3 separate regions of the Homo sapiens genome follow, and all the other regions are linked to region 2. Evidence: fine-mapped QTL for protein levels in blood plasma. A gene starts in region 2. Each other region holds a variant in brackets. All regions are shown on one strand. Distances are from middle to middle.

Evidence for each region. PIP is the posterior inclusion probability: the model's chance that the variant is causal. Protein levels are from antibody-based Olink assays in UK Biobank. Linkage for the fine-mapping came from a reference panel and not from the study's own genotypes, which makes the PIPs less certain.
Region 1: its variant is fine-mapped to the plasma level of the SDC1 protein (UK Biobank, PIP above 0.99).
Region 3: its variant is fine-mapped to the plasma level of the SDC1 protein (UK Biobank, PIP above 0.99).

What each region holds. Positions count from the first base shown.
Region 1 is chr2:20,183,701-20,193,929 of GRCh38, forward strand. No RefSeq gene overlaps it. Among named protein-coding and RNA genes, the nearest start is that of SDC1, 36 kb to the right of the region's middle. RefSeq lists an enhancer at 3,709-4,327. The variant G/C (reference allele first, on the strand shown) is at 5,498.
Region 2 is chr2:20,221,903-20,231,953 of GRCh38, forward strand. SDC1 (syndecan 1) reads right to left here and starts at 3,228. Exons shown (of 5, transcript NM_002997.5): 1 at 2,900-3,228. The coding sequence starts at 2,965. RefSeq lists enhancers at 422-929, 930-1,436, 3,196-3,875, 3,876-4,555 and silencers at 1,595-1,794, 2,205-2,664, 2,685-2,744, 2,785-3,204, 3,265-3,644.
Region 3 is chr2:20,167,644-20,177,872 of GRCh38, forward strand. It overlaps the pseudogene RN7SL140P and the pseudogene RNU6-961P. Among named protein-coding and RNA genes, the nearest start is that of SDC1, 52 kb to the right of the region's middle. RefSeq lists an enhancer at 2,765-3,614. The variant G/A (reference allele first, on the strand shown) is at 3,976.

The DNA.
Region 1 (10,229 bases), 38 kb before region 2:
ATGATAACTTTGAGGCAGTGCCTGCAAACATCCAGGTGGATAAATGCACATGTATATCCAGCCTTCCTGAAGCTCTGATTTTCTACCATGTTTAGCCAGGATCCATCCAGTTCTCCCAGACAAGCCATGTCAGGAATGGCCTGGGAGCCATGGAGAGGGGTCAGTGAATAGATGGCTGCTGGCCTTGTCCTTCCCCTTCGGATGCAGGAACAAGGCTCTCAGATGCATGAACTCAGCCTAGAGTTCCTGGGTCTCCTGCTGCACCCACAGGAGAGGTCTGGGAGGACTCCATCCCTGGAGGTGCCAGCAGTTAAAGAAAGCCAGAGCTGCCAGCCAAAAAACACCTTTGCCCATCAGCCAGGAAAGCTGAACAGGCTGGAGTGCTTCCATAGGGGAGGCACTGGGCTTAGATCTTCCTTTAGCCATCCATTCCTTGGGGCTTTCAGGGGGCAGGAGGTCAGATCTATGCTTTCCTCGGAGGTGGGCCCTGGTGCTGGGGCGGGACCACAGGTGGCAGAGGGTGGGGGCTTAACTCCTCAGGCCTCACTGCTCATTCCTAGTTGGACTGACTTCTGATTACATTGTTGTTTCAGAAACAAGCACTCGATGGCATATTTCTCAATTGAGTCACTGCTCAGTTTGCCTTCTCCCAGGAAAGCAAACACTCTCTGGCTTCACCTCGGGCCATGGCTGTCATTGACCTTACTTACCTTGAAGGGCTCAGCACTGGGTTCCCAAGGCCCTTTTTAAGATCCAATTTCCCTGGTGCTTTGAGGAGGGTGGGGGACATCAGAAGACCCTCTTGCTGGGAACATCCACTTCCCGATGCCTCCTCCTTTGACGTCGTGAGCCACAGGCCACCAAGCAGGTTCTGCGGCAGCAACTCAGAAGAGCCCTCTGGAGTAGGAGAGCCTGGATCCCGGTGCCCAAGGTGGGCACAGCCTGCAAGCAGCTCTGCTTGGAGAAGTCCCGCTTCCTAGGGCTCATTCCGACTGTGCACATGACACTTTCGGGAGTAGGTCAAGAGCCCCAGGCGTCATTTGAACAGGAAGTTCTCGGGTCACATCAAATGTTCCATGTTGCCAACCCTCCATGTAACCCCTTTTCAGGAAGTCATCGGTCTCACTGGCAGGGTGGGGGAGGGCCTGTCATGAGTCCCGTCTCCAGTGTCCCTCTGTTCAGTGCATTTGGCGTAACCCCCAGCTGTATGCACTGGGCCCCCAGGGCTGCCTCCCCCTACGTCCCCCACAGCAGCCCAGCATGGGGAGAAAACATCCTAAAATCACCAGGGGCTCCAGGGAAAAGCCGAGAGGGGGCACGTGGCTGGTATGAGAGCCAGGAATGCCCATGTGTTCAGGATGGCGGAGGCAATGAGGAAAGAATGGCCCGATCTTCTCTCTGTTCCCTGCCTGTCAGTGTCATTCCCACTGGGTTCTAAATCCCCCTAGCATGTTCACAGGTAGCTCGCTGCACCCAGAGACCCCACCAGGCAGATAAACTTCTTTGTCCCACAGACAGAATTCCTCGACCTAGTCTTGCCTTCTTCCCCCTGCTGTCGTCCTCATCCCACTTCCAGCTGTGCCTGAAGAGAATCTGAGGGTCAGACTGGAGGGCGGGGAAGGAGAGGCCGAGCTGCCCCATTCACAGCGTTCAGGACTGTCTCTGCCCCAGGTTCCCTGACTCCTGGAAGTTTCTGGAGTCCTAGACAGGTCCTCTTGGCACTTTAGGAACCAGCTCAGGGCCTGCCTCTTCCTGGAAGCCCTTCCTGTGCGTGCTGATGGTCTTGGAATCAAAGCGCAGCTGCTGAGGAAGTAACTGGGAAAAGCAAAGGCCAGAACTGCAGGGTTGAGGAGGAGGAGACAGTGAGGAGAAGCCCACAGTTCATCTCCGGGGCTCCTCCAGGTGGCTGGCGGAGCGGCTGAGTGGCCCGAGGACTTCCTTTCCCAGGAGGCTGTGCCACAGACTTGGAGCTGTGGGGTGGGGTGGCGGGTAAGAGGGCAGGCTCTCTCCTGGGCAGCACAAAGGAAGCGTCCAGGGGGCCCAAGACAGCTGTCTCACTGTGCGGTCTGAGCACCCCCAGCCCGGGCATGTGAGCAGAGCTGACTAACTCTTGCAGGAAGTGGCCTCAAGCTGGGAGGGAATGGTTGGAAGGCCGACTGGGAAGCGGGGCTCAGAGGGTGCTCCCCAGCCTGGCCCCTGACTCATGAGAGCACACTGTGCCCTTTGAGGGTGGCCTGCTTTAGCCATCTCTGCGGGTGCTGCAGGGGAACAGGGAAATGAGGAACCAGCATCTGCCCACAGCCTCCCTTCTCCCACAGAGGCAGGCTCCAGGCCTCAGCTCCCACCCTTCCACCAACTCACCTCCCCGCCTCACCTGGTTTTCCTATTTTTTTTGTTCTCCAGGCTTTTCCCATGGGAAAATCCCACCCACCATTCCAGGCCAGCCAGAAAGCCTCTCCCTGACACCTGACCAAGTGTTCCCTGCTGGCTCACAGGTAGCCAAGCCCCAGAGGTCTGATATGTGACTTCCCGGCAGGATGCTGTGATCTCCAAGGGCAGGGTCCCTGGAGGGAGCCGGGGCTGTACAATGTTGGCCCTCAGCAGGGTCTCCAGGCAGGACTGCTTCCTCAGGCCAGTCCATGGTTCCTCCACCCTGGCTCCCACTCCCCATCCCCCCTGGCCTCAGGGAGCTGACAAGGCCAGAGGCCCCTGAATTCCTGCCCGAGGGCTCACCCCTGCCCTCGGTTTCACAGACCACCTTTGTGTAGGTCACTGTTGCTGAGCTCTTTCTAGCCCAGCACAAACCTGGGGCCTGGTCTTAGTGACTGACCCACCGGAGAGCTCCCAGTAACTCCCAGTAACTTCTCTGCCAGTCATCGGCTGCTGCTCCTGTCCCTTTGAGGAACTAACGACTGTTCTGTGAGTCAGTAACTAGGGGCAGAGGGAGGGGTGACAGACTCATTGCAGATATCAGGTGATCACTGCAGATATCATGTGATCGCTGCGGCCTTGGAGCCAGAGGCGTCCCTGTTTCTGCTTCCCCAAGAGGACATTCTCCTCCCATGGGGAAGGCCCCCACTCACTATACATTTGCGGCATCTAACCTAGATGGGCTCGAGAAAGCCACTCCGCACAGCAGAAAGAGCACTGGCTGGGAGCAAGTGAGTCTGGGCTCCCCACGGCTGGCAAGAGACTCCCCTTCTCTGAACCTCAACTTCAAGGGGGTGGCCCTCAGAAACCCTAAGAATGCTCACAGTTTTGTGACCTCTTGAAGTCCATGTACATGAAGCAGCTGCGGGCTCAGCCACATCCTGAAGGATCCCATGAGGATGAGTCCTCGTTAGCATCTGTCTGCCCTGGCTCCTAGAAGAACCTGTGATGCTGTGATGAAGCTTTGAAGTCAGGCAGTCCTGGGTTCAAGTACCGGCTCTGCCTCTTACCAGTACATTTTGCACCTTTCTGAACTTGATTTCCAGATGAGGAGATCTGAGGCCCCAGGAGGGAAGGAAAGCACCCAAGATACCAGGCGGGACCCTGGGCCTGCTGGCCTGCAGCTCTGCACTCCTTCTCCAGAGGGCTTGCCCTAGAAGGAGCCAGGGTGCTGGGAAGGCTGTTCCACTTTCAAGGGCTGAAATGAAGGTGGTTGTGTCTCACAGCCTGGCTGGCAAGGCTAGTTCCTCCACCCTGGAGCATCTGTAGATACACCACAGACACAGTGAGGGGAGCAGACAGGCTGGGACCACCTGGCCCTGGAGGGAAGCCCTGGGAAGGCTGGCTAGGCTGCCTCCTGGGCTGCCTCCTGGGGCTGCAGCCGGTCCTGTGCCTTTCATCTGCAGATACCCGGCCTCCCTCCCCACATGGTGCCCAGAAGGCCTGTGGGAGCTTCCCCTGCTGAAAGCTGCTGTCAGCAGGGGGCCACACCTCCCGTAGCCCTTGAAGTGTGAATATTTCTGCTTTCATAGCACACTCACCCCAGGCCCCAGTCCCTCACATCCCTTTAAGAGATGTCCATTACCTGAAGGATGGGGAATGGAGCGGCCCATGGGTGGAGGAAGGGCAGACAGGGTGTGGAAGCAATAGTTGTGTTTGTACAAATGGAGCCCTCCCCGCCAGCCACTAGAGGACGAGCTCGAGGGTACAGGTGTGTCTGTGCAGATTGGCCACTGCACCTATGCGGTGTCTGCTTGAAGCAGTGTCCTCTTTTCTAATTTCAGTAAAAGCCATGCCCACTCACCAAGCCAGGTGCCTGTCCAGAGGGGATCTTCCCCAAGGGAGCGCTGTGTCTAACATGCACAGAGGTGCTCCCTGTGCCCCTGCCTGCCCTTTGACTGTGCCTGGGGAGAATTTGGGTGGGGAGGAGGGCTCGGAAGGTGCACAACAGGTGGGAACTGAGTTCACAAATAAGCTTCTCCCCAGAACAGAACATCCTTTTTCTAAATCCCAACCCAATTGTTTGGTGACCACTAGCACTTCCAGCCAGGAACCTGAGTCCGCTGCCAGACAGCACAGTGCCCAGGAGCCCCATGACTACCTCCAGGCCAGCCCTGAGCCATCTTGAGAAGCCAGAGAGCAATGCTGCCTGGATGAGGCAGGTCCTGCCTCTTCAGTGCCTCCCTCCAGGGAAGGGTGGGGCAGAGGTCCTGGAGCCCAGCCCCCTCCCACAGCCACCCCAACTCTCCAGGCTTCAAAGGCCCACAGGTCATTTCTGGCCCGGAGGCCAGCCCGGACCAGGCCAAGCCCCAGTGGGCTGTGAATCCACCAAGTCTCTTTTTTGGGATCTCACATGCTCCATCTGCAATATGTCTTGGGCAGGAAGGATGAAGGCTGAGTTCCACCACTCCAGTGGGTGGATCTCAGCCTCCACCCTTCCTGTATTCTTATAATCAACACCCCCCTCACTACAATCCTGTATGTGTGTATGTACTTGCACATGCACACGTACACACACACACACACACACACACGATTCTGCGGGGAAGACGTGGGAGACCGAGGACCTAGCCTAGTCGTGACTCTGATGCACTGTGACCTGGCCTGGAAGGTTCCATAGAGTAAGCATCAGTACATGAGGCAGGCGCCGTGGCTCAGGGATCCCTATGGCCCCTGTGCGGTGCTTCTATGGCTTCCTTAGCCCCTCTTTTTTCCGCTCCGCCTTCTCCCAGGGCCAGGCGCAGGGAGCTGGGTGAAACAAGAGTTCATGAATGAACAAATGAATGGATGGAGTGGAGTCCCTCTCCACCCTCACTTCCGATCCCCTAATCCCCTTCCCATCCCCATCTCTAGGCCTGGCTCGGGGGCAGAGCCCCAGGTGTTTTTCATTAAGGGTTTTACTGGGATTCTCAGGCTCTAGCTGAGGAAGGCTGAAAGAGCCACCTAATCCTCTGCCCCACCCCCAGGCTGAGCCCGACACAGTGGGAGTCAGGTTACACAGTGGGAGGCAGGGGCCTATCCTCTCCCACTACCCAGACCCTTCTTGGGCAGCCTCTGGCCGTCTCCA[G/C]GAGGTCACCTAGGGCCCAGCTCGTCTCCAAGCCCATTCCCCTCCACCTGTTCTTTATACTGCAACAGTCAGGACATCCTTCTAAGGAACAAAGCTAATTATCCCATGCCCTTACTTTAGAATCCACCCAGGCTGCCTCCTTCCTTTTTTTTTTTTTTTTAACAACTGGCTCTGATTTGTGGCACTTGCCAATGTCCATGGTACAAATATTTCCATCATGGCCAATTTCAAACTACCTTGTGAGGTCACTGAACTCATGAGCACAGTCAGCTCTCAAAAGCCAGTAGAGCCGGCTCCCTCACCATCAGCCACAACCCTGTGCCCCTGACCTAGAAAACCAGCCCTCCTTTACTGGCTCCAGTTGTCCCTCCAGCCTCACTTCTCACTGCTTTTCCACCCCCAATACAGATACTGCACACTGGGGTGGGGGGATCTTGTGGGTCCCTGGGTGCACCTGGCACTTTCCAAGAACACTTCTCTCCTCCTCTTTTGCCGGGCCAGCTCGTTTGACAAGACCTCATTCACATGCCTCCTCCTCCAGGCAGTCTTCTCTAAGTCCTCAAGCTGGATGGGGTGTCCTTCATCTGTTTCTACAGCACTGCCCTTGGACATCTGTATTGTTTAATAATGCATGTGTGTCCTTGCCACAAAACCGTGGGCTCTTCAAAGGCCAGGGCTGTGCTCCTGATATCTCTGGGTCCCCAGGCCCTGACCCAGAGGAGGCCTCAGTAACTGTGTTGAAGGAGTGAGACGCACGTAGGGACGTGCTCAGGGCACAGGGCTCCAAGGGAAGAGCCACTTCGGAGGGCTGGAGCTATTCTCTTGGGCTTCCCCAGCAAAGGCCAGCGCCGCCTATGTAGCCAGCTTCCTGGGAGACAGAGGGCACTGCCCATGCTCCTCCCACCATGGGAGAAGGGAATTGCTCCCCAACTTCTGGATCTGACATATTCCAAGTGACATCCCCCCACCTGCCCACTGGCTCATAGGGACACGGAGCTGCCTGGGGCTGGGTAGAAATGAGCTGCCATCTGTCCCCTGGTTGTTTGTCTTCTCATGACCATGGTTCCCTGCAGGATACATCATTAGTAACTGTGGTGCCAGCACCCAGGCGTGTCAGGGAGGCCACCCTTTCCCATGCCTGGGAACCGCTTCGGGGCTTGCTGGGGCAGCTCCAGCCTGGAAGAGCCTCTCCCACGCCTGTCCAGGTGTCCTCTGGGACAGAATGGATGAACAGGAAGCAACCGTGGCACAGGAGCGGCACAGACCTGGGTCTGCACGTCTGCTTGGCCACTCAGGAGCTGCATGAAGAATCAGTTTGGATCTCAATTTCCTCATTTGCGAAAAGAGGGTGGGGATTCCAGCCTGTCAGGGATTTTGCGACCATCAGAGTCATAGCCACTATTCATGCAATGCTTGCAAAGTGCCCAAACCAAAATGCTGAAGAGTTTACTCCCATTACTTTATTTAATGCCCCTAGGAGATGAGTTCATTTCACAGATGACAGAGCTGAGGTTCTAAGGAGTTTATGGTCACACAGCCAGTAAAGTGGGGTCTAACCCCAAAGCCCCTGCTCCTGCCACTATATTACTCTGTGTCCCTGAAATCGGAGGGTAGGCATGGATAGAGCCTGGCACATTCTAGGCATATTGGAAATGGTAGTCCTTATTCATAATTAACCAGAATCTTGGTGCCTGACATTTAGTGGCACGCTGCGTTTTCTTAAATCTCTTTCCAAGTCTCATCTGTGCCTGAAGGTGGGCACCGGCCCTCCTGCTTTCCCTATAAGGAAATGGAGGGGTAAGGAGATGCAACAGTTTCACGCAGTCCCTCAGCCAGGGCGGGCAGAGACTGCTGAGCGCCAGCTCTGGGCTCCCGGCCTGGCCTCTGGCTCCTGGGAGAAATTCCCCTTGTCTGGGGTGCAGGCAAGGAGGGAGTTGAACAGACAGGGCTGGGAAGAAGGGCTGCCTGTCAGGCTCGGACGCATAGTGTGTGAGTAGCAAGGCCAGCCCCCTCAAGCTGTCTCCACTTCAGTCTCCACCAGGGGCCACAAAATCATATCCAGCTAGTCCCGAAGATCCAGGCCTGCCGCCTTGAGCAAACCCTTATCCTCTCCAGACCTGTTTCCTCGCCTGTGAAACAGAATAACTCCTGCAGCACCACACAGCTCGAGTTTGTGTGAGAATACGATGAGGGAAGGATGGTGAAGACCCCTGAGCACTGTGGGTGTGAGCGCTCTCTGGGGAGGGGCCGGCCCTGGCTGGTCAGCCTTGTGTGGCACTGTACTGGAGAGGCACATCTGAGGGACAGCTAAGCTCCCCCTGGCGGGCAGGGATTGTGCCCCATTTCATGCACAAAGCATGCTTAAGTTCCCCCTGCGAGAAGCCCTGCTGTGTGTCTGGATTCTTAGGCCTGAAAGGCCTTACCTTTCACATCAAGCGACCAGTCTTTTCTAATGAGTTCAAGTGGTAGCACATCTGATAGGGCAAAACAGCCTCATTTACAAAGAGAAAAATAAATAAAAATGTTATATAGCCTTGAGAATAAGGCCAGACAGTCAGCCCAAGGTCCCTGGAGCAACACATAGAGAAAAAGAGTTGGTAAAAGTCTTTCTTCTTCTGTGGACTCTGTCCGGGCAGCCATGAGCTGGAACTCAGCCCAGCCCTCGTGCCACGGGATATTTTCCACCCTCAGAAGTAGCTGGGCTGGACCCAGAGGGGAGGCCAGGCTGCTCCTGCACTGGGGACCCAGGGGCCCAGTGTGGACCCTCTTCCTTGGCCGTCAGGCTGCAGGGAGCACCTATCAGGAGGATGGGGCTGGAGTCTGCATCCTTGAGGCCCCCCGGCCTGGTTCTCACCAGACCTGGTCACCCTGGCCTGGCAGAATCCTGGGAAGTACGAGAAGTCATCTCATCTGGGGCCACATCTGATGGGTGAGGGGAAGCTGAGGATCAGAAGGAGGCAGCCCTGGTTAACGGATGTCACCCTGGGGCTCCACACCGTCTCAGTCTGTGGCCCTGTCACTGGTCCAACAACAACATCTATCAGGTGCTGAGAGGTGGCAGTAGCCCATGTGCGGCCATGTCATACCTCACCCAGGCTTGCAACAGACACCCTGTGCACTAGTCACGAGGCTGGAAAATGGCAGGACCAGGATTTTGAGCCCAGACATCTGGCTACAGAGTTTTTCTCTGGACCACCATGCCCTCCCACCTCCCCCATGAGTTCTGAAGGGGGACCATGTCTCCTGCTCCCCAATGCCCACTTTCCCTTTAAGGGCTAACACGGGGGTTAAAAGCCCCACAGAGGGAAGCTGTTCGCCCTTAGAGAAGGTATCCCAGCTGATGGCCCAGGCTCTGTCCTCGAAAGGGCTCTGCAGATTTGGGATCGAAGATGCTGCCCTGGACTGGGCTCAGGGCCTCTCGCCTGTAATCCCTATTTGGGAGGCTATTTGGGAGGCTAAGTCAGGATGATTGCTTGAGGCCAGGAGTTTGAGGCCAGCCTGGGCAACATAGACCCTGTCTCTAATTTAAAGAAGAAAGATGCTGCGCCGGAAAGGTCTTTCTGAGGTCCAGATTGCCCACAGGGGGCTCTGAGGCAGCCCAGGGGAACCCCAGCAGGCTTGCCCTGAGGCTCTGAGGGCAGCCAGCCCATCTGCTGCCTCCTGGGTCTGCAGGTCTCAGGACTTTTCAGCCTTAAATCTAGTCCAGACCTAAACTGTCCACGTGGCTGTGCAGGCTTTGCTGAGGTCAAGGAGCAAGCTGGGGGCTGAAATCCTGCTGTCCAGGTGCAAGGCTCACAGGCCTGGGGGACAGGGTGACTTTCTCCTACTGGCCAGAGGTGCTGTCTGCTAACTGAGCTGCACCCCACCCGAATGGGGATTTGCAGAGGCACCATGTGGACTGGGGCTAGGCCTGCCCAAGAAAAGGCCAGACAGTCAGCCCAAGGTCCCTGGAGCTAGTGTCCTCCTGCCCTCTGGCCCTGGGCCTGTTCACCTCTGCAGGTTCTCCAAGGTTACTTCGCAGCCTCAGGCAAACAGACCATGCTTTCTGGATTCTAAATCAAGATTCATAGGTGGACAAAGGAAGTGTTTCGATTTATGAATCTAGAGATAAGGAAATGCTCACAGTTGAAGAGCACTTGCATTTTTCTAGTTTTGAGTGGTTACAAAGTCATCATTTCCACACCACGGAACACTACTCAGCAATGAAAAGGAACACACTCCTGAAGCACACAGCTTGGATGGAGCTCAGATGCAGTCTCCTAAACGAAAGAAGCCAGACTCAAAAGGCTTCCTACTGTATGATTCCACTCATAGGACATCTGGAAAAGGCAACACTTACAGGGACAGAAAACCAATGAGTGGCTGCCAGGAGCCAGGGGTGGGGAAGGAGTTGACTACAAAGGGTGCAGGGAAGTTTTGGGGATGAGTAAACTGTTCCAGATCCTAACTGTAGTGGTGGTTATACAATTGCATGCATTTGAAAAAAGACTGTATAACAATAAGGGCAAATTTTACTGTGTGTAAAATATACCTTAGTTTTTTTTTTTTTAAGAAAGGAAAAAATTACATTTTCTTTTTAACATTACATGCCCCCTTTTTTCCACTCATTTTGGCTGTAACATAAATTTGAATTATTAAAATATTTCAGACCGGGCGCAGTGGCTCACACCTGTAATCCCAGCACTTCGGGAGGCCGAGGCAGGCGCATCACCTAAGATCAGGAGTTTGAGAC
Region 2 (10,051 bases):
GCTAGTGCCTCCCCCCATACCCTCTCTGCCAGGCTGTGGGAAAATGTCTCTACTAGCCCCCATAATTAGGGCAAAAGGGATTTTATGCCTTTCAAGAAAGAGAAGAGAGAAAGAATGAAAAATAGCAAATAACTATTCCAGAACAAGCCATTTTTCTTACATGGCAGAAACAAAAGACCACAGTAAACACACACACACACACACACACAGAGAGAAAGAGAGAGAGAAACCTTTTTAGACAAACCTGTTTTAGTCTCTTGGGAGTGGTTTTGAGCAACCTCCTCTCCTAGCAGCCTCCCCTCACCCATTCAGTCACTCCTTGCTTCCCTGGTCCCCAGGGGGTTTCTGACCTGCTTCCCACTGGGGCCAGAGTGAACTTTCAGAGAGGGTCAGATCTCTGCCACTTGCAAATACCTTCTCCCATCTTAAAGCAAATCCCAGCTGCCTGATTTCTTTTAGGAAAGGGGTATCAGAGCTTTGGGAAGGCAGTGCATGCCCCCACCTTTAACCTAACATGGACATTCACTGTAAGAGGAAGAGGGCAGAACTGGGAAAGAGAAAACAAACTAATCTTTGTAAGATCAGAAAAAGCAAAAAGAACACCTAAGCTTCAAGCCAGAGTCTGACCCCAAAGCTCAGGTGGGGCTTTCAGGCTCAGCTCAAGCACCTCCTCCAGGAAGCCTTCCCTCCCTGCAGCTCCAGGGAGTCTCCCTCCTTTCCCCTTTTGAGACTCTCCTGCCTCCTGGGCCCTATGTCCAAGTTTCTGGGCAAGAAATAATGCCTCACACTGCAGCATCTGCCCCAGCCCACAGAAAACTCCAGGAAAGGCAGTTCACGGGGAAGCCCAAACTCCACCTGCCTCCCCAGCATTAACGGGTGCGGTGGGATCCCAGGGCTCTGGAATGTCTGCTTTACCCCAGGCAGGCAAGGGAACCAGCAGCCCTCCTAAATCCAGCCGGAAATAGGTGGAGGACCCAACTTCAGCCGCCCCTGCTGAGGCCCCATCATGTGCGAGAATGGGGCAGTGAGGTGATGCCCAGCGGTCCAGGGAGGTAAGGCACCCAGCTCCATTCTCTTCTCCAAACTCGGAGCGAAGACTCCAAGCACAGTCTCAGTTCCACAGAAACCACCACCCTAGAGAGCAGCTTCTTGGACCTGAAAGCCAGGAGTGCATGAGACCCAGCTCGGAAATCATGGCCCTCCCCGTGCTCCCAGATACCCCTCACAGTCCAGCCCATTCACAGTTCAATAGGCACAGGGACCTCTCCTGGACCGGAAAATGTCTGGAAGCACGAGTCACCTGGGAAGCAGGGAGGGCGCTTTACACATCGGTCTCAGAAACGACTGTCCCTACCTCATCTCCCATGAGACAGACTCTGTAAAGAAAAAAAAAACCAAAGCGCTCAATAACTGGCAGCTACTACACGAGGCAACGCTTACGGAGGGTCAGCGCTGCTGAGACTTGTCCAGATGCCACATTAGCAGTGGAGAACCCGAGTGCCCACCCCGCCCCCGCCCCTTCCCTGCCCACGTGCCTCCCTTTGCCAGAGCTGGGGAAGTCGAACTGTCCAGATGTAGTGGCGAGACACCGCCACTTCCGGAAGGGGAAGCGCCCCTGGCTCCGCACCTCCCCTCTGCATCCCTGGGGATGGCCGAGCCGGCCCGCAGGAGGGACCCCGGGACGCCAGCACCGGGCGCGGGGGCTGGGGAGGCGAACTCGGGCGGCAGACTCGGGCACCGGGCGGCCCGCGCTGACACCTGGCTGCGGCCCAGGTCCCAGCCCCCGTCAAGGCCGGCGTTACGGGGCTGTTCCCAGGAAAGGGTTACAGGGGCCGAGAACAAAGCGCCCCCATTGGGGAAGGCGGGCTAGCGGCCGGTGGCCGGGGCGGGAGAGCCACTTTCTGGGGACCCTCAGGCTGCTCTTTGTCGGCCACGTCCCTCTTTAGTGGAGCGTCAGCCCCGCTGAAGGTGGATGCTGCATCCCACCCAAAGGCCTCTTACAGCCCCGAGCTCCACATCTGCCCCTCTTTTCTCCCAGCTGCACTGGGCGGGCCAAGGGACCCGCCTTCCCTCCGCGCGGCTTCAGCACAAAGCCGAGCCGGGGAGCGGGAGGCCATTCCCGGGTCCCCTCGCGTGGAAGGCGCCTGCGCCTCGGCCGTGCCCGGCACGGGAACGCGCCCTCCGGGGCCAGCTCAACTTCAGCAGCCCAGAAGTTGGGCTCCTCCGGGTCTCCAGCGTTCCGAGGCCAACTTCCCGGAACCTCCCGCTGCCGGGCCGGCTCAGCTCACCTCGAGCCGCCCACGGCAAGCCCGAGGGCCCTGCAGACGCTCGCCCGCGCCCCCCACGCAGCCCTGGCCCGGCTCCCCGGGCCAACGCGGCCGCCTCCCGCTCCCGCGCCGGCCGCGCTGCGCCCAAACTTGCCCTGGCGCAAGGGGCGGGGCGCCCGGGCTCGGCGGCGCTGGGGCGCAAGCCCGCGGGTCTGGTTTGAATTAGGGTCTGCAGGGGGGGCGTTGTGGCCGCGGTCACTGCATCCCCCCGGGTCACCGACGGGGGCCCGGCCGCCGCGGTGGCCGGGGCGAGGAGGGTGGGAACGGGCGACCCCGGGCGCCGCTGTGGGCTGGCGGGCTCCGACAGATGTGGAGACGTTTTACATAATTGAGCGCGGGGCCCCGGCCCCCCACCCTCCCCAGCGCGGGACCGGTGCGGCACCCACCGACAGCGGAGGAAATTGGGGCTGGAGCCCTGGTCTCGGGGCTCACCGTCCCGGGACCCGCTGGGCTAGCGCGGGAAGAAGGGAAGTCTTCGCTCCCCCTCCCCCTCCACGTGCACCCGCCGGCATCCGCGGGTGACCAGTCCCGGCTTCCCGCCGCCTCCCCGCCTGGCCGCCGGCCGCACTCACCGGCAGGGCCGGCTGCAGGCTCAGCGCCAGCGCGCACAGCCAGAGCCAGAGCGCCGCGCGCCTCATGCTGCCCGGACCGGCGGCGGGAGAGCGGCAGGCTGCGCGGGTCGCGGCTGCGGGCCGGCTTCGCGGGTTCCGCTGCTCGATGCTCTCTTGGGCGCCTGCCCAGCGCGCCGCTGTCCCAGGCGAGGGCTGCAGGGTCCGCCGGCTGGAGTCCGCTCTCTACTGCCGGATTCCTCTCCGCTCGGCTCGGATTCGGCCCGCACCTCTCCCGCCGAGCTCCGCCTTATAATAAACCCACAGGCCCTTCCTTAGCCGTTGCAAAAACTGGCCCCCCACCCCCAGCTCCGCCAGGTCTCCCGGCCAGCCCCAGTCCACACCCCCCAGGACCCCGCCCCCCAGCCACCCCTCCCGGCCCCTTCGGAACGCCCCACCCCCGGCCCGCTCCTAAGGTTCTTGCCTGCTTGGCTCCCGCTCCTCCGGTGGCCGAACGTCGCTTTCGGGAGCTGTGGTCCCCGCAAGCCGCGGTTCCCGGCCTTTCAGCTCGGCTGCTCCCTGGGTGGTGGGGCCGAGGCGCACCCCCTTCTGCCCGGGCCCGGAGTGCGGAGGCGCAGCCCGGGAGAGGGGCTGAAGGGGGGCAGGCAGTCCTCGGGCGCGAGTGTGCAGCGCCCTCTGGGCGTGGACGCGGAGCGCGCTCCAGGTGCGCAGGACTCCTAGCTCTCTTGGGGAACGCTTTCTGGGGCAGGGCGGGGACCCGGGGGCGATGGGGCCTTCAACCGACGGGCAAACACACACAGACACACCCCGGCTGTCCTCCAGCTGCGATGCGGCTCGCTGCGCCCCGCCGGCCCAGATTCTCCCGTACGCTCGCGTTCTTCCTGCACTCCACAAAGTGCTGGAGACTTGGGGCCTTAGTTTAAACAGCTGCACCCGCACGGAAGGGCTGCAAGAAAAAGGGGGACGGGGGCGGAGTTCGCAGCGTTTTTCTGTGGAAGACAACGCCCTCTCTCTTCATCTGAGCTAAAAGGAAAAATAAGTAACTTCTTTGTTCCCCGGTGACCTCGGGCACGCGGATCTGAGGAGCACCGTGCAGTTGCTGCTCCTTCGAGATCCCCTGCGAGGCCCTGGGCCTCAGTTCAAAAAGCTGTGGAAGGCCTGCGGGTGTAGGGGAAACGGCCGAGAGAGCAAAGGGGAAGAACCGGACGGGCCCTGCCCACATCTGGCAGGCAGGAGAGATGGTGCCAAACGACCTTCGCACCTGGGCCCTGAGACCAAAGATGGCGTCGTCCTCCCCTGTCTTCCCTAGGCGGAAGGCAAGAACTTGGGTCGGCCTGAGCTGGGGACCAAGAAAATATCGGGAAGTGTCCAGTGTTCCTCTTTAAAAGAATTAAACCTTCCTGGGCCACGCAGGGACTGACCGTGGGACCCTGGACTCTCCTCCACCTTCCACCGTGGAGCAGGCTCTGGAGCCGAGCAGCCTCCTGCGTCCCCATCTCATCCCCCCACTCCTCCTCACAGCACTAAAAGATGATGGCCTGCTTGTACCCCTGCTCCTGAGCACCTGTTTGACCTCAAAGAGCTCTCGCTTTTGGGGTGTCCGTCTCCCCAAGTCTGTCTAGGGGGCAGGAAGACCTTCATCAGGGTTCTTGGGGGCCGATGTGGGCTCGCTGAGTGCCTGAGTGATGGATGGTCTCACAGCACGGCACCACGGAGGTCCAGCCGAGCTCGAGGAGTCCCTGTGGATTAAAAATGCCCTTTTCGAAGGTTCTACCTCTACCAGAGGGTGGCTCCACAGATCCCTTCAACCCAGTATGGTGGAAAAATAGGAATTTTGGAATCTTACCTTTCTCTACTGCTCACAACAGAGGAAACTGGGGTCAGGGAGGATTTGATGGAGTCTTTTCATTTTTTAAAAGTCACTCACGGCCAAGCGCGATGGCTCACGCCTGTAACCCCAGCACTTTGGGAGGCCGAGGCGGGCAGATCACCTGAGGTCAGGAGTTCTCGACCAGCCTGGCTAACACGGTGAATCCCCATCTCTACTAAAAATACAAAAATTAGCCGGATATGGTGGCAGGTGCCTATAATCCCAGCTACTCGGGAGGCTGAGGCAGGGAGAATCGCCTCGACCTCTCGGGTTCAAACAATTCTCCCGCCTCAGCCTCCTAAATAGCTGGGATTACAGTCGCACGCCACCACAGGCCGGCTAATTTTTTATTTATTTATTTATTTTGTATTTTTAGTAGAGACAAGGTTTCACCATATTGGTCAGGCTGGTCTTGAACTCCCAACCTCAGGTGATACACCCGTCTCGGCCTCCCAAAGCGCTGGGATTACAGGCGTGAGCCACCGTGCCTGGCCCTTATACTTGTCTTCTTGAGTGCATGTGTGAGGCTTTCTCTAGAAGTAGAGCTCTGGATTATAGGTATAAACATCTTCAACTTTCTCAGGAATTGTTGTAAGCAATTGCTCTAAGCAAATTGCTCTCCAAAGGGCTTATAGTAATTTACACTCCCAACAGCAGTTATGAGCATTTCCATTTTTCTACATCCTCCTATGACTTGGTGTTGGGCCTTTTATATTTTGCCAGCTGATGCAAGTAAAATTATATCTTATTGCTGTTTGAGTCTGACCATCCTTCCCATTAGGAAATGTTTTGCTGAAGCCTTTAGTTGCCGACTGGTTGGGCAGACACTTCTGTTTACTTATCACATCTGTTTTCCTCTTTCTCAGTAAGAGATTCCTTAAATTTCAATTGGGCTTATGGCTATTTAAAATAAAGATTACCTTTCCCTGCCTCTCTTACAGCCACGCGTAGCCACATGATTAGGGTCTTGCCAGTGGCACATGAGCAGAAGTGGTACATGCACTTTCAGAAAGGTGTCAAGCATGCTCTCCTTCCCTTTTCTGTTTTCTCCTGGGCGGAATACAGATCTGATGGCTGCCTCTGAAGCAGCCTTCTTGGACCATGAAGTGAACATGGGAACAGAGGCCATCCACAGCAGAGGAACAAGTTAAAGGAAGCATGGGTCCCTGCCCCATGGAGTATAGCGTCATCCCTGGACTGCCCACGCAGACTTATACATGATGGGAAAATGTCTCTTTTTGTTTGTTTAGGACACTGTTTCTCTGAATTTTCTCTCACTTGCCAGCAATTCTAATCCTAAAAATACACTGATGAATTCATTCTTCTGTATAAGACTAAGTGAATCATCTCAGAAGAGTATGGGGAGGACAACTGGAAAAAGGAAGAAGAGGTGCCTCAGGAGGACGGTGAGAGGAATGGCTTTGAAGATGCTGCTACAAAGAGCCTCTAGGAGGCAGCCCAGCCAGTTTCCCAGCCCCAGACTGTATGTTAAGTTTGGGGACAATTCCTGCCCAAAAAAGAGGTGTAGGCTAGAAGGAGCCATGTTGGAGAGGTTTTTCAGAGAACTGTCTGAAGGCCACACTGGCGTATGTCTCCTCTAATGCACCGTAGGATTGGCTCTCACTGGGTCCCAGTGCAGGGGCATGGCCCTGAGTGCCATCGGGGGACTCCAGAGGAAGCCCCTCACCCACCACGGCTGCGGAGCTGTCCTTGGGTCTGTTGTGAGACATGAAGACCTAGAAGCAGTGGAAAGTTTTGGTTTCGTCTAAGGAACGAATATGTTCATCCTTTTTTTTTTTTTTTTGAGACGGACTCTCGCTGTGTCCCCCAGGCTGGAGAGCAATGGCATGATCTCGGCTCACTGCAACCTCCGCCTCCTGGCTTCAAGTGACTCTCCTGCCTCAGCCTCTCAAGTAGCTGGGATTACAGGCACCCGCCACGATGCCTGGCTAACTTCTGTATTTTTAGTAGAGATGGGTTTCACCATGTTGGTCAGGCTGGTCCCGAACTCCTGACCTCAGGAGATCCACCCACCTCGGCCTCCAAAAGTGCTGGGATTACAGGCGTGAGCCACTGTGCCTGGCCATATGTTCATTCTTAGATATTGAGAAATATGTAACCAAGTGTGTCTGCACTTTCGTGCTTTGGCAGCTCCAAATCATCTGGGGATTCAGTGTGCAGCAAGTGGATTGGACTTTATGTCCTGCTTCTCTGCTCTCAACCTCAAACCTGCCTTGCCCCTGTGCTGACTGTCCCTTTCTAACTTATAATTTCCCTTGCCTTCTAAGTTGCCTCTAATATTTGATAGCAGGAAAGAGAGAGAATAATACACCTTTTGTAGATATCATTGGAATTTACACATCCAAATCAGAGTATCTACTTCCCCAAAGCGATCCCCGTAAGGGACCACTTTTATCACCTCATGGTGCCCATCATCCTAGGGAGGCCTAGGAACCCTTTGTCTATGGGAATAACTTTTTTGTTTTGGAGGAGGAGAGTGGAGTATAGTTCATTTATTTGATAAATATGTCTAGAGATGGAGCATTACCCAGTTCCAGGAAGCATGATTCAGTGTCTTCCATGAAAATGGTATCCTGGCTGGGTGCGGTGGCTCATGCATATAATCCCAGCACTTTGGGAAGCCAAAGTGGATGGATCACTTGAGGCCAGGAGTTCGAGACCAGCCTGGCTAACATGGTGAAACCCCATCTCTACTAAAAGTACAATAATTAGCCTGGTGTGGTGGCACATGTCCATAATCCCAGCTACTCGGGAGGCTGAGGCACAAGAATCCCTTGAACCTGGGAGACAGAGGTTGCAGTTAGCCAAGATTGTGCTACTGCACTCGAGAGAAAGAGAGAAAGAGACAGAGAGAGAAAGAAAGAAGAAAGGAAGGAAGGAAGGAAGGGAAGGAAAGAGAGAACGAGGGAAGGAAGGAAGAAAGGAAGGAAAAGAGAGAAAGGAAAAAGGAAGAGAAAGAAAAAAGGAAGGAAAGGAAGGAAAGAAAGAAAAAAGAAGGAAGGGAGGGAGACAGAGAAAGAAAGAAAGAAAAAGAAAGAAGAGAAGGGAGGGAGAGAGAGAGAGAAAAAGAAGGAAAAGAAAGAAAAAAAGGGAGGGAGGGATAGAGAGAGAAAGAAAGAAAAAGAAAGAAAAAAAGAAAGAAAAAAGGAAGAAGGAGGGAAGGAAGAAAGACAAAGAGAAAAAGAGAGGGAAGGAAGGGAGGGAGGGTGGGTCCTGTGGAATCGTGCTCTAGAGATTCACAGTCCATAGCATCGGGTGTGAATGGTGCCTGTGGAGTTGTGCAATGCGGCAGTGCTATGCTGCAGAGACCCTACTGGGAGCCAGGCCCAGGGCTGAGTGCCGGAGATACCAAAGTGAAAACATAAGGTTTTCATTTTCTGTGAGTTCAGTCTTTGGGGAAAAACTGAACTAAACAATCATTATAAAACAAAGAAGTGCGTGCAATACTAACCTGTTCATCAGCAGCAGTAAGGAAATGATGGATTCCGGACGCAGGGATAAAGTTCCCAAAGGTTTCAATGATGAGGAAGGTTGAGGGTGGGTGGGAAGCCATTAGAACCTGTCCGTGGATCAAGAAACAGGATTTGGGCAGTGTATTTGATTCCTGTGGCTGCTGTAATAAATTTCTACAAATTTGGTGGCTTAAAATAGCACCCACTTAGGCTGGGTGAGGTGGCTCATACCTGTAATCCCAGCACTTTGGGATGCCAAGGTGGGTGGATTTCTTGAGCTCAGGAGTTTGAGACCAGCCTGGGCAATATAGTGAGCCCTCACCTCTGCAAAAAAAACAAAACAAAAAAATTAGCTGGGTGTGGTGGCACGCGCCTGTAGTCCCAGCTACTTGGGAGGCTAAGGTGAAAGGATTGCTTGAGCCTGGGAGGTTAAGGCCGCAGTGAGCCAAGATCATGCCACTGCACTCCAGCCTGGGCAACAAAGCAAGACCCTATCTCTAAATAAATAAATAAATAAATAAACACTCATTCTTTTACGGTTCTGGAAGTCAGAAGTCCAAAATCAGTTTCACTGGGCTGAAATCAAGGTGTGGGCAGGTTGGTGCTCCCTCTCAAGGCTCTAGGGAGAATCCATCTCTTGCCCCTTTCAGCCTCTGGTGGCTGCTGGTATTCATTGGCTTGTGGTCCCATCACTCCAGTCATCAAAGCTGGCAGCTTCAAAGCTCTCTCTGCTCCATCTTCACATTGCCTTCTTCTCTGTGTATAGTGAAATCTCCCTCTGGCTGTCTCTTGTAAGAATACAGGACTGCATGCAAGGCCCACTGGAATAATTCCCAATAATCGCCCCTATCTCAAAATTCTTAATCACATCTGCACATCTGCAAAGACCCACCACCACCACCTTGTATTGGTTGTTGTTCTATAAGTTAACATTCACAGGCTCCAGGGGCTGGGATATAGATATCTTTTAAGGGTAATTATTCAGCCTACCGCAGGCAGATAGAGCAGGGAAAGGACATTCCAAACAGGAAACCCAGCAAAGAGCAGGCAAAGAAGCAAGACAGAGCTTCAGGATGTTCAGGAACTGGAAGGAGTCTGAGGTGGGCTGGACTGGCCGGGGCACAGGACCTCTGGCAAGGGCTGGATCAGAGGGAGAGAGCCTGAGCAGTGTGTGCCAGTAACGGGCCGTGCCTAGGCTGGAGGAGCCAGTGGTTTGCATTTTGAAAAGATCCTCTGGCCACTGTGCGAAGGGCAGGCTGCAGGGAGGGAGACTGTGGGCTGGGACACCCTATGCAGGGGCCGTGAAGGTACAATGTGGGGAGCCAGGATTGAATAATATGGAGGAGGTGGGATGCGATGAGGCTTGGAGAAGGATGAAGGAGAGGAACAGTGCAATGTGGAAAATCCTTGGTGAGGGTCCATTTCCACCTGGTTTACGTAAACAGCTAGCGTCAGAGGGGCCGAATCAGTGTGTAAAGTGGCTGCCTAGGCTGGGGCAGCACTGGGTGCTGAAGTCCTTTGGTAGATCACCCCGGGGCTCGTGACTCAGTTCTAGGCTGCCTCAAGGATGAGCCTTTGTTGCCTTTGTTGGAAGCTTGGACAGGAAGCTCTCCAGCAGGGAGGAGTGCCAACACCAGCCACACCCTCCCAGGTGCAGCTAGGCCCAGTCACCCTGAGCAATTTCCTGGAGTGAGGCCACTCGCCACTGGCTCACACTAGCCCCTGCCCTGCAGGGCATCATCAAGGATCTGGAGTCTGAGCAGCACCAGGCTCTCTGTGACTCAGCCCCTGTGGGGAAGGGGAGCCCGTGCT
Region 3 (10,229 bases), 54 kb before region 2:
TCTCTTCACCTGGAGTCCAGTGCTCATCCATGGCCATCGCTGTGTGCCAAGGATGTAGGGGTTGGCCAGGCCCAGAAAAGGGGATGTGGGCAGTGTGGGAAGAAAGAAAAAAAGCCCTCCAAATACCGGAAGATGGGCACAGTGAGCTCCACGAGCCAGCCACAGCTCACCTTGCCATCTTTACCTTTCCCATCTTGGTGGGTAGGGTGGGGGTGCCCTGAGCACTGCACAGGACGGAGGGTGCTTCAGGGCCACCGCAGCTGTGACCAGCATTTGGCTGAGAGATAAACCCTCCCCAGCCAAGAATGCCACCCCTGGAACCTCCCCTCCCTAAAAGCTTAGTGGCAATTCTAGCAACTCGGGGGTCAGGCAGTGCTGGACTGGGGCGAACTAACAAAGCCTCCTCCGTGGGAGCCATTTCCCCTAATACCCCCTTGAACAAAGGCCTGAGATAGCTGTCCGCCGGTCCACACACCTGTGGAACACCACCCTCCTTGCTCTCATGTTTTCTCTCGTACTCAAAGGCCCCAGAGAGAAGCCCCATTCAGGCAGCTCAGCCTGCACCTCTGCTGCAGGGCGCTGGGCCACACCTGCCGCCCCATGATGTGGTCCTTTCTCCAGAGCACGGGGCTTCAGGGTCCTCCCTGCATGGCATGGACAGTTCTGAGGGATGGCTGTGACACGCAGCACGAGGCCACCCTGCTTCCCATCGGGGAGCTCTGACATCAGGGGCCAAGACATCTTTTTGAGATGAGTGGGGGGCACGGAAGAGACGTCTGGATGTTAGAGTCATGGTCTCCAAAGTGGGGACTGACCCAGCTGCTGGGCCTCCCTCCAGCAGCCCAGCCCTGGGTGGACAGGCTGCTTTTATGATGATAGTTAACTTTTTATAGATATTCCTCCTGCAGCAAGTTAAATTGCATCTGCTCGGGCAGACATCCAGGCCAAGGGCAGGCAGATGGAGCGGCCGGGCCCCGAGGCTCTGGCGGGCAGGTCTTCCTGCTGTAAAGCTCTGTGTCTGATAGGAAATTCAGGCTGGAGTGTGGGCACAGGGCAGCTTGGGTTGCTTCCTGAGGGTCTAAGAGCCCCAGACGAGTCGTCCTTTTCTTCTGCAGCCTCTTCATGTGGCTCTGAGTTCTGCACCTGGGCAAACTTCCTTGTGGGAGAAGTCATGAGTGGGTAGAACGTGCAGTCAGCGCTGTAGGACCAGCCAGGGAGGGGCCTCAGCCAGTCAGCTGTGATGGGGCAGGGGATCGGAGCCTCGCCCGGTTGGTGGGCAGGGATCTGGCCCTGAGGAGCAGGGCCCCGGGAGTGGGACCCTCATCCCACAGGACCGGCAGCACTGGGCAAGTTATTGCTACAGGGATTTGGCCATGGCATATGGGGTACAAACCAAAACAGGGACCACCCCCAAACTCAGCCTGAGTCGACAGCACTGCCCTCTAGGCCTCCACTCCCCACAGGGAGAAGGGCTCCCACACTGGTCCCTCTGACGCCTGCAGAGTCACTTTCGATGGGGCCACTTCGCCTCCCAGCCAGCCCGCCCTTGGTCCAGGGCATTAGCGACTCGGCGAGATGCACTGAGTTTGACTTTCAACACACATTTATTGGACACCTAACTCCCTATAGGCTGTGTGTTAAGTTCTGGGGCTTCAAACTGTGCTGAATACAGCCCCTTCCCTGGAGGAGTGCCTGGACTGTGAGGGAGTGAGAGCAGTAAATAGTCGGGGTGATTGCGCGAGGATAACAGAATGCACAGAGCGAGGCTGCGGTCTGAAGAGAGGCCAGGCTGCAGGGCCTGCTGGGACTGGGACCACTGCTATCCCAGCCCAGCCTCGGCCCACTGCTCCCAGTTCCTCCTCACGCTCCCCACCTCTTCCTGGGACGCCTGTCATGACCAATAGCCAACAGGAAAAAGAACACCTCCCTATCTGGTCTTCCCCCACAGGGACTGGTTCTTGTCCAGGGACACACGCCCTCTCCAGGAAACCTGTGGACCCACTGGGCTGGGGCAAATAACCCTCTTCTCCAGAAAGCTCCTAGCAACTTAGATGGCTAAGCAGAAGTCCCATCAGGTCCCAGTTACCCCATCACCTGGTCGATTTGCAGGTCCCATACATTCAGTGTTGCCGAGTACCTGGCATGTGAAAGGTATTACATCAAGTGATGCTTACAGCTTCCCTTGAGGGTAGGCAGGGTGCCCAGATATTACCTAACACTGCGTAACAAACCACCCCGACACTTAGGAGTTTAAAACAAAAACAGCAGTATTTATTTTGCTCATGAATATGCAAAGTGGGCAGGGCTGGGCGGGCAGTTGTTGCTGCTCCACTTGGCTTCAGCTGGGGCAGCTTGGAGGCTGGAGGCTATTATCATCCGAAGCTGCTCATTCACTCACATGCCTGCGCCTGGGGTGGGAAGACCCGATGGCAGGGGGCAGGCACAGCTGGGGTGCCTCACACTCCTCTGTCTATCTCCTTGCAGCCACGCCTCCCTCCAGCATGGCGGTGTCAGGGTAGCTGGACCTCTTATGTGGGCTCAGGCCTCATGGGGTGTGCGTCCTGAGCAAGAGCAAGCCAGGCCGAAGCTGCATTCCCTTTTCTAACCTAGACCCTAGAGTCATGCAGCACCATTTCCGCCTCTATTAATCAGCAGTGTCTCATCAAACTTGGCCCATACTGAAGGAAGGACAATTGAATTCCATCTTTTCATGGGAAGCGTGTCAAAGGATATGTGAACACGATTGTGAGCCTGTTTTTAAATCACCACTTAAGACAAGGTTGTTGCCTTATTTTAGAGAGCAAAAAATAAAGTGGCTTGTCGAGTTCATGCAGCAATTTAGAACTGATGAGAATTCTAAGCCACATCTCCCAGCTCCAAGGCCAAGGCCTCCTTCTAGTCACCATTTAGTGCAATGATAAAGGGATCAGAGTCCCTCGGAGCATCTGATGAAATCCATAGACAATTTTCCCAGAAAAAAAAATGCACGTGCATTAAATCTTGGGTCTGTATGTGTGTGGGGGAGCAGAACAGTATAACCAAAAATATAAGGCTGGGCTAACCAATTGTGAGCTCAGCCTGCCCCTGGCGCAGCCACCACACTTAGGGCAGCCAGTGCGCGGCGCGACTCAGCCTCGGGTTTGGAGAAGGGCTTGCCGTGGGCAGTGCCCTGGGGACTTGCTGTGGAAGTCCCATGCTGTGCTGTGTCAGCCAGCACCTCCTGGCTTTATCATTGCACCATACATACCATGTGCAGGAAAACAAGTGTTTCCTTCCTGCTCCTGACATGGGCGGACTCCAGGGTTCTGGATGGAGAGACCCAGAATCCAGACTTCCCTACAGCAGCTCCCAGCCTTCTCACAGCCCCAGGGGCAGCTGGACAGGTACCCAGGGCAGCCACACAACAGAACAAGAGGCCTCGTGGGGCCTGTTAGTCTCTGCATTTGACACAGCGAGGGGTGGCATAGTGGTCCCTGCCCTCTTTTCCTTCTGCTCACACCCGAAGGAGGAACAGGTGCATCGGAACTGCAGGAGGAAGAGAGTTTGGAAAAGTCCCTGGCGTGACTGTCATAGATAATTCCCACCTTATCCTTGCCCTCGAGAACCACACATGTAGTAGATGACATAGAGGCATTTAACAATTTCATATAATTTAATTGTTTTATTAAACAATTGTGTTTATCAATTGGCTCAGAAAATCCCTCGAAAATAGGACAAGCTGTTCTCATGAGTGTGTACAAGTTGTCTCTAGCACACCGCTGACTCAAACCCAGGACCTCTGACACCAAATGTAACCCCCACTCTACACAGCCAAAGGTACTGGAGCTCCACAGGCAGTAAGCAGTGGGGCTGAGATTTAAAGCTAGTCTGACCCCAAAGCCAAGTGTTAATCATTATCATTTGGATAATGATCTCCATTGGAGGGCCTGATGGGAGAAGAGGAGAAACAAGGACGCTGACCCAGAATGCCTGTGG[G/A]CTTTACTTCCCTGATCCCAGGCCACTGGGGCAGATTGAGGGGGGATGGTCGGGGGGTGTCATTAAACCTCAGGCATAGTCAAGCATTGTTCCCTCACTGCAGAGGGGCAGACCTGCCCAGGGTCACACACAAAGCATGGGGCTATGCTCAGGCTAGAGCCTGGATCTCCTCAGTCACCCTCAGACCTAGGCATACCCTCAGCCCTGGTGACCTGTGCCCAGTGGGGACCAACTAACAAAAACCACCACTGCAGACAGGTGTGAGCTGTGAGGAAGTCCCGCAAGACAGAAAGCCTGAAGCCTGCTGAGCCCAGCCTGGGCCAGACCCTCTTGGGGGTGCTGCAGTTTTAGAGAGGAGGGCACCAACGAATCAAACAAGAGCCCTGTTCACAGGCCGCACTGTCTAACACAGGTGCTACTAGCCGCATTTGATAATTTATATTTAAATTCATTAAAATTAAGTACAATGTAAAATTCAGTTCCTTAGTCATAATAGCCACATTTCAAGCGCTCAATAGCCACCTTTGGTTAAAGGCTATTGTGTCAGATAGTGCAGATAAAGAACATTTTCATCAATGCAGAAAAATCTGCCGGACAGCACTGGCCCTAGAGGAAAGTCAGATAAAATGAAAAACAACAATTTCGCCCGCCGGAATGGAGCCAGCTGCCGAGAAGTGTTTCTTGGAGGAGGAAGGTCTTGAGGTTCCAACTCACAGGAGCCCTGCCCACTCCCAGGTCTGGGCCCTCCCTCTTCTCCCCTCCAACCCCAGCCCCAGGCCTGAGCACGCTCTGATTTCTTTCCGGCTGCTTGTGTGTGGCTGTCCTCCACCACCCGGGGTGGAGAATGGGGCCTGTGGGGACCTGCAGAGAGTTGCCCAGGAGCCAGCAGAAGTGGGAGCAGCTGAACCTTCTCAGGCTGCCAGGGCCGTGGCCCACTTACCCGCATCCCTAAGCCTCAGAAAAGGAGGGCTCTGGGGAGCTGCTGGGGCTTGGAAAGTCACAGTGATGGTGCAGGCAGGGGCGGGCGCTGTGTGTTTGTCTCTCGGCATCTTTGATGTGCCTCGGAGTCTTTCATGTCGGAGGCTGTCCTCTGCCAAGGGCCCCATGTGCTGTTTGCCCTTTTCCTTTTATTCCTTTTTTTATTCATTTCATTAAATTGGTTCTGTAGAGGGCAAAAGAAGAGCCCAGCAGACAAGAAATGCTCTCAGGTTATAGGGGAAGAGAAGTGGGGGCGAGAGCTCACTTCTGGCTGGGCGGGTGCAACTGAAAGCAAAGCACTGGCTCATCCACCCACACTTCAAGGCTTCAGCTGCTCACACACTAAGTAAGACCTCTTAGAATCTTTATAGAACCCATGCCTACTTCTTGTGGATGAAGATAAAATCCTTATGTGATCTTAATGAAATCCATGTAGAAGCTTCATAGAATCCTCTTGGATGCCACATAAAAATCCTCACAGAATTCACCATATTGCTCATAGAAGCCTAAATCCCCACTGCCATACGCACAACACACACGCATGACATACACTGCACTCCAGTGGAAATAGCAAATTATCTTGAACCCCATCTCCTTTCCTCAGAGAACAGCCACTTGACAGATCTATTCTGTAGGTGGAGGGACTGGGAACATTGCCCAGGGTGAGGTTGCAATGCAACCTTTTGTGGCCTGACCTGGGCAGGCCTCTGTGAAGGCCCCTTACTCTGCAAACCAGGTCCCTTGGGAAGAGGAGAAGAATTTGCAAAAGGATCCCAGGGCTTCTGGGAAGAGAGGAGAAGCCAACTCCTGTATGAAAATTCATCATGGTTGCCCTGGGTGCTCGATCTGCTGGGACGGAAGCCCCGTGATGCAGCAGGAATTGTTGTTGGTGTTAATGTGTCCCAGCACCTACTCCTGTGCCCGGCACACATGGTAGATCCTCAATAAGCAAATGAATGAAGGTGTGCTAGCAGGAAAGGATCCCCAGGGCCCTAACGAGCACCCACCATAGGACAGGGCAAGCAGCAGGCCACCACGAAGCTGCACCAGGTACTGGGCATTGTTATGGGCTGGGTGGGGACCCAGGCAAACGAGACCTCTCTGCTGAGTGGATGGATGGCGGCCTGGCTAATGCAGGGAGTAAAGGGGTTCTGACAGCAGGCGGGTGAGGTCTGTCTGGCAGGCATCCTGGTGGTTGATGACCAGGAACTGCATGGCCAGTTGGCCCCGGGCATGCAGGCTGAGACAGCTCCAAGGATTATATCCTTGCAGGGCCTGGAAAAGTTTTCTAGTTATTTGTTAGCTTCATGTCAAGCAGAATGGCTTTCTTTCATTCTTCAGCTGTACTCGGCCAGAAGTCCCCAAATTCAACCTTCAGGAGCTTTGCAGGGACTTAGAGACAGGAGTCACTGAGCAAACCTGACTGTGGAGCTCAGATTATAAAGAGGAAAGAAATTCTGCTTCTTCCAGGCACAGAAGGCAGTTGATCCTTAGCGGGAGCCCTGGGCTCCAAGAAGCCCCTGGGGAAGCAGTGGAGCTGACACTCATCTAACAGGCCGAGCTCTGTGTGTCTGTCGTCTGTCTGTGCAGGGATGATGGCACCCACACTCCCAGCAGCTCTCTCTGCACACCATGGTGGAGCCCCAGCTCTGTGCCCTGCCCTGGGCATGGCTGAGAATAGACAGGTGCCCTCCGCATTTGGGAATTAGCAGTTTTAGTCTCTCAAGAGCAAAGTACGCCCCGGATACATGTTTCAAAAAAGAAAGGTAAGAAGGAAGAGACCCCTTTCCCCTGCAAAAAGAAATCAGGCCAGGTTGAGCCACTTCTAGCCCAGAACTGTTTTCATGGCAAACCCTAACATCCTACTTCTGCCAACATTCAAATTCAGGTAACTTAGAGGGACAGCTAAAATCCAAATGAACAAAAAAGCCATATCCAGGTTGCCCACCAGTGCCTCCAGCTTGCACAGGGCCATGCCCCATGCAGCAACATCTCTGAGCATCAGAGAGTGGTGGCAGTCACCAGATTCCTTGGGTGATGCAGCTACCAGCTGGAACCACATCAGGAGGATATTGGAGGAGAAGACAGGAGCAAGTGGTGGGCACACCACAGAGGGCCTTGAGACTTGGGCGGAGTCGAGACTTTGTATTTAGGTGCTGGGAGCCTTTAGAGGCTTTGAGCAGGGGAATGACTTTTCAGACACATGCATTAGAAAGGGTTATATTTAAGGAAAACACATGCTCCATATGCCTGGCACAGTCCTGGTTTGCCTGGACAGTTCCAACTTATGCCTGCTTTTCCTAGTAAACTGATTGCCCATTACACTCTCAAGAGTATCCTGGTTTTACCTACTGGATATTTTATGATATTAAAGAATTATTTTTAATTTTTAAAGTATAATAATATTATAGTTACATTTAAAAAAAAAAAGAATTCTGGGCCAGGCACGATGGCTTATGCCTGTAATCCCGGCACTTTGGGAGGCCAAGGCGTGTGGATCACATGGGGCCAGGAGTTCGAGACCAGCCTGGCCAACATGGCAAAACCCCGTCTCCACTAAAAAATACAAAAATTAGCCAGGCAAGGTGGCACATGCCTGTAATCCCAGCTACTCGGGAGGCTGAGGCACAAGAATTGCTTGAATCCAGGAGGCAGAGGTTGCAGTGAGCCTAAATCATGCTACTGCACTCCAGCCTGGGGGGACAGAGCGAGACTGTCTCAAAAAACAAACAAACAAAAAAAGAGTTCTGTCGGGCATGATAGTGCATGCCTGTATTCTCAGCTACTCTGGAGGCTGAGGCAGGAGGATCACTTGGCCCCAGGAATTCTGGGCTGTAGCGCGTTATGCCAATTGGGTGTACACACTAAGTTTGGCATCAATATGGCGACCTCTTGGGAGCAGGGGACCACCAGTTTGCCTAAAAAGGGGGAACCAACCCAGGTTGGAAACGGAGCCGGTCAGAACTCTTGTGCCAATCAGTAGTGGGATTGCGCCTGCTCTGGGTACATTGCCCAGGCTGGATCCCACTGCTCTCACTGTGTTGCCCAGGCTGGAGTGCAGTGGAATTCAGGCTTCACTCCTTTCAGTGGAGCCACTGCACTCCAGCCTGGGCAACATAGTGAGACCTCATCTAAAAAAAAAAAACAAAAAACAGTTCTTATCTTTTAAAGATAGATAGATTGATTGATAGATAGATCAATCGATCTAGTGCTCACTCTGGCAGCACATATACTAAAATTGGAATGATACAGAGATTAGCATGGCCCCTGCACAAAGGATCACATGCAAATTTGTGAAGCATTCCATATTTTATGATGAATGTTTGAGAGATGAATATGTCAATTACCCTGATTTGATCAGTACACATTATATGCCTCTCAACATCACTATGTACCCCATAAACATGTACAATTACTATGTGCCAACTAAAAAATCTAAAAAATGAAGACATACGCTTAGATATTTATAGATGAATATTGTCTAGAATTTGCTTCAAACCAATCTAGCAAGGGGAAGTGGTGGCCGAATGTGAGTGGGAGTAGAGACGAAATAAAATTGGTTGAGTTGACAATTATGGAGTTTTAGTGGTGGATACATGAGGTGGTGGTGTGTTGATGATACTAGTCTCCCTATGTTTGTGTTTAGTTAACATTTTCTGATATGTAAGTTTAAGAAGAAAGTGTCCCAGAGTGGACAATAAATATGGTCACTCTAGTTCAATGGTTCTCAACCTGGAGAGATTTTGTCCCCAGGGGACAGTTGGCAAGGTATGGTGGCCTTTTGGTCATCACAACTTGGTGGCGGAGGGGGGGATATGCTACTATTACCTATTGGATAAATGCCAAGTATTGGTTTTTATTGCTAAAGGCTGCAATGCTCAGATTGCCCCCCACCCCAACAAAGAATTCTCTGGCTCAAAATGTCAATAGCACCAAGGGTTACACCCCAGGTTAGTGTAATGTCTGTGACTTACTTTAAAGCTCCATTGTATGAACAGAAGAGATAGTGTCTCTATGTGTGAGCTAATTGTAATGTATGCTCTAGGGTTGATGAGTTAACACTTAAAGTAACTCACACCCTAGAAGTGGCTAGCAAAGGCTTCAAATATAGTTATTTAAATCTGCTCCCCAAAATTCATTAACTAGCATAAACAATATCCAGGTAATTTGTTGTTGGTGAAGTGAGTGATGTTCAAGAACTATATTCAGCTGGAAAGATGGTTTAGGCACCTATGTCTCTGCTTGAACAAGACAGAAGAATCCAGCAAACCTGGGTGCCTGACAAGCAGGGACTGGTGCTCTGGGTCTATTCCCATTTCATTCTGAGTCCCCTCTTGGCCTTGACGACTCTGTCTCCTGGCCCAGCCAGAAGCTCGGCTGGTCCCGCTGACAGAACATCGCCATATCTTTGAGCTACTGGACTTCCCATGTGAGTGCTTATCAGCAAGCCTAGAGGTAGAGAAAGGTGATGCCCCAAGTTTAGTGGAGGGGCCAAATGACTATTTTTGTGACTATTTGCTAATAAAAGTATGTCGTTGTGGCAGAATATGGTCTGAAATTTACTTTCATTGTAACATATCTCCTTGTGGCAAGGGTGTGGGCCTGAAGACCCTTTCCCATCTTATCTTTGGGGTTTAGGAGACACTAATGTTTACCCTAAGAACTTGATCATCATTGAACAGCCAAGTTGGCTGAGATCAGGAAGATGATAACGGTAGTGTGTGTGTAGAGAACAAACTGAAGATGAGATTAGAACCTTTGCCTTCTCCATGATCTGTGTATCTTTCTCATGTCTTCCAGGAACACCACATACCTCCCTAACACCACCACCATGTATCATTGAATAGCTAGACTGGCTGAGATAGAAAAAATAATACTGGAGGTGTGTGTAGAGGATAGATGGGAGAGGAGATTACAACTTTTTCACTCCTTTTAGGATCTCTCTAATATCTTCCATACACCTGTCTGGCACCAACACCATGCATCACACGCACTTTTCCTGCCCCACCAGCGTCTCACCTATGTCCCCCGACACCTATATCTGTGGCTTCAACTATGGCCAGGAAGTGTCTCCTTGTGCCCGAGGCCTCTCAGGTGTGTCAGCAAGTAGGTAGGAGAGTCTCATGGCTCAGTCTGGCCTCAGAGGCTGGAATGTGTCATGGTGGCTGTGATTGGTTTCAGCTGCCTGTAGTCCACAGCCGGGCATGTCTTCCATCTCCAGCAGGAGCCAGGCAAGAGCAGGCTGCCTCTGTGTCCTAGAAAGCCAAGGTCCTCCC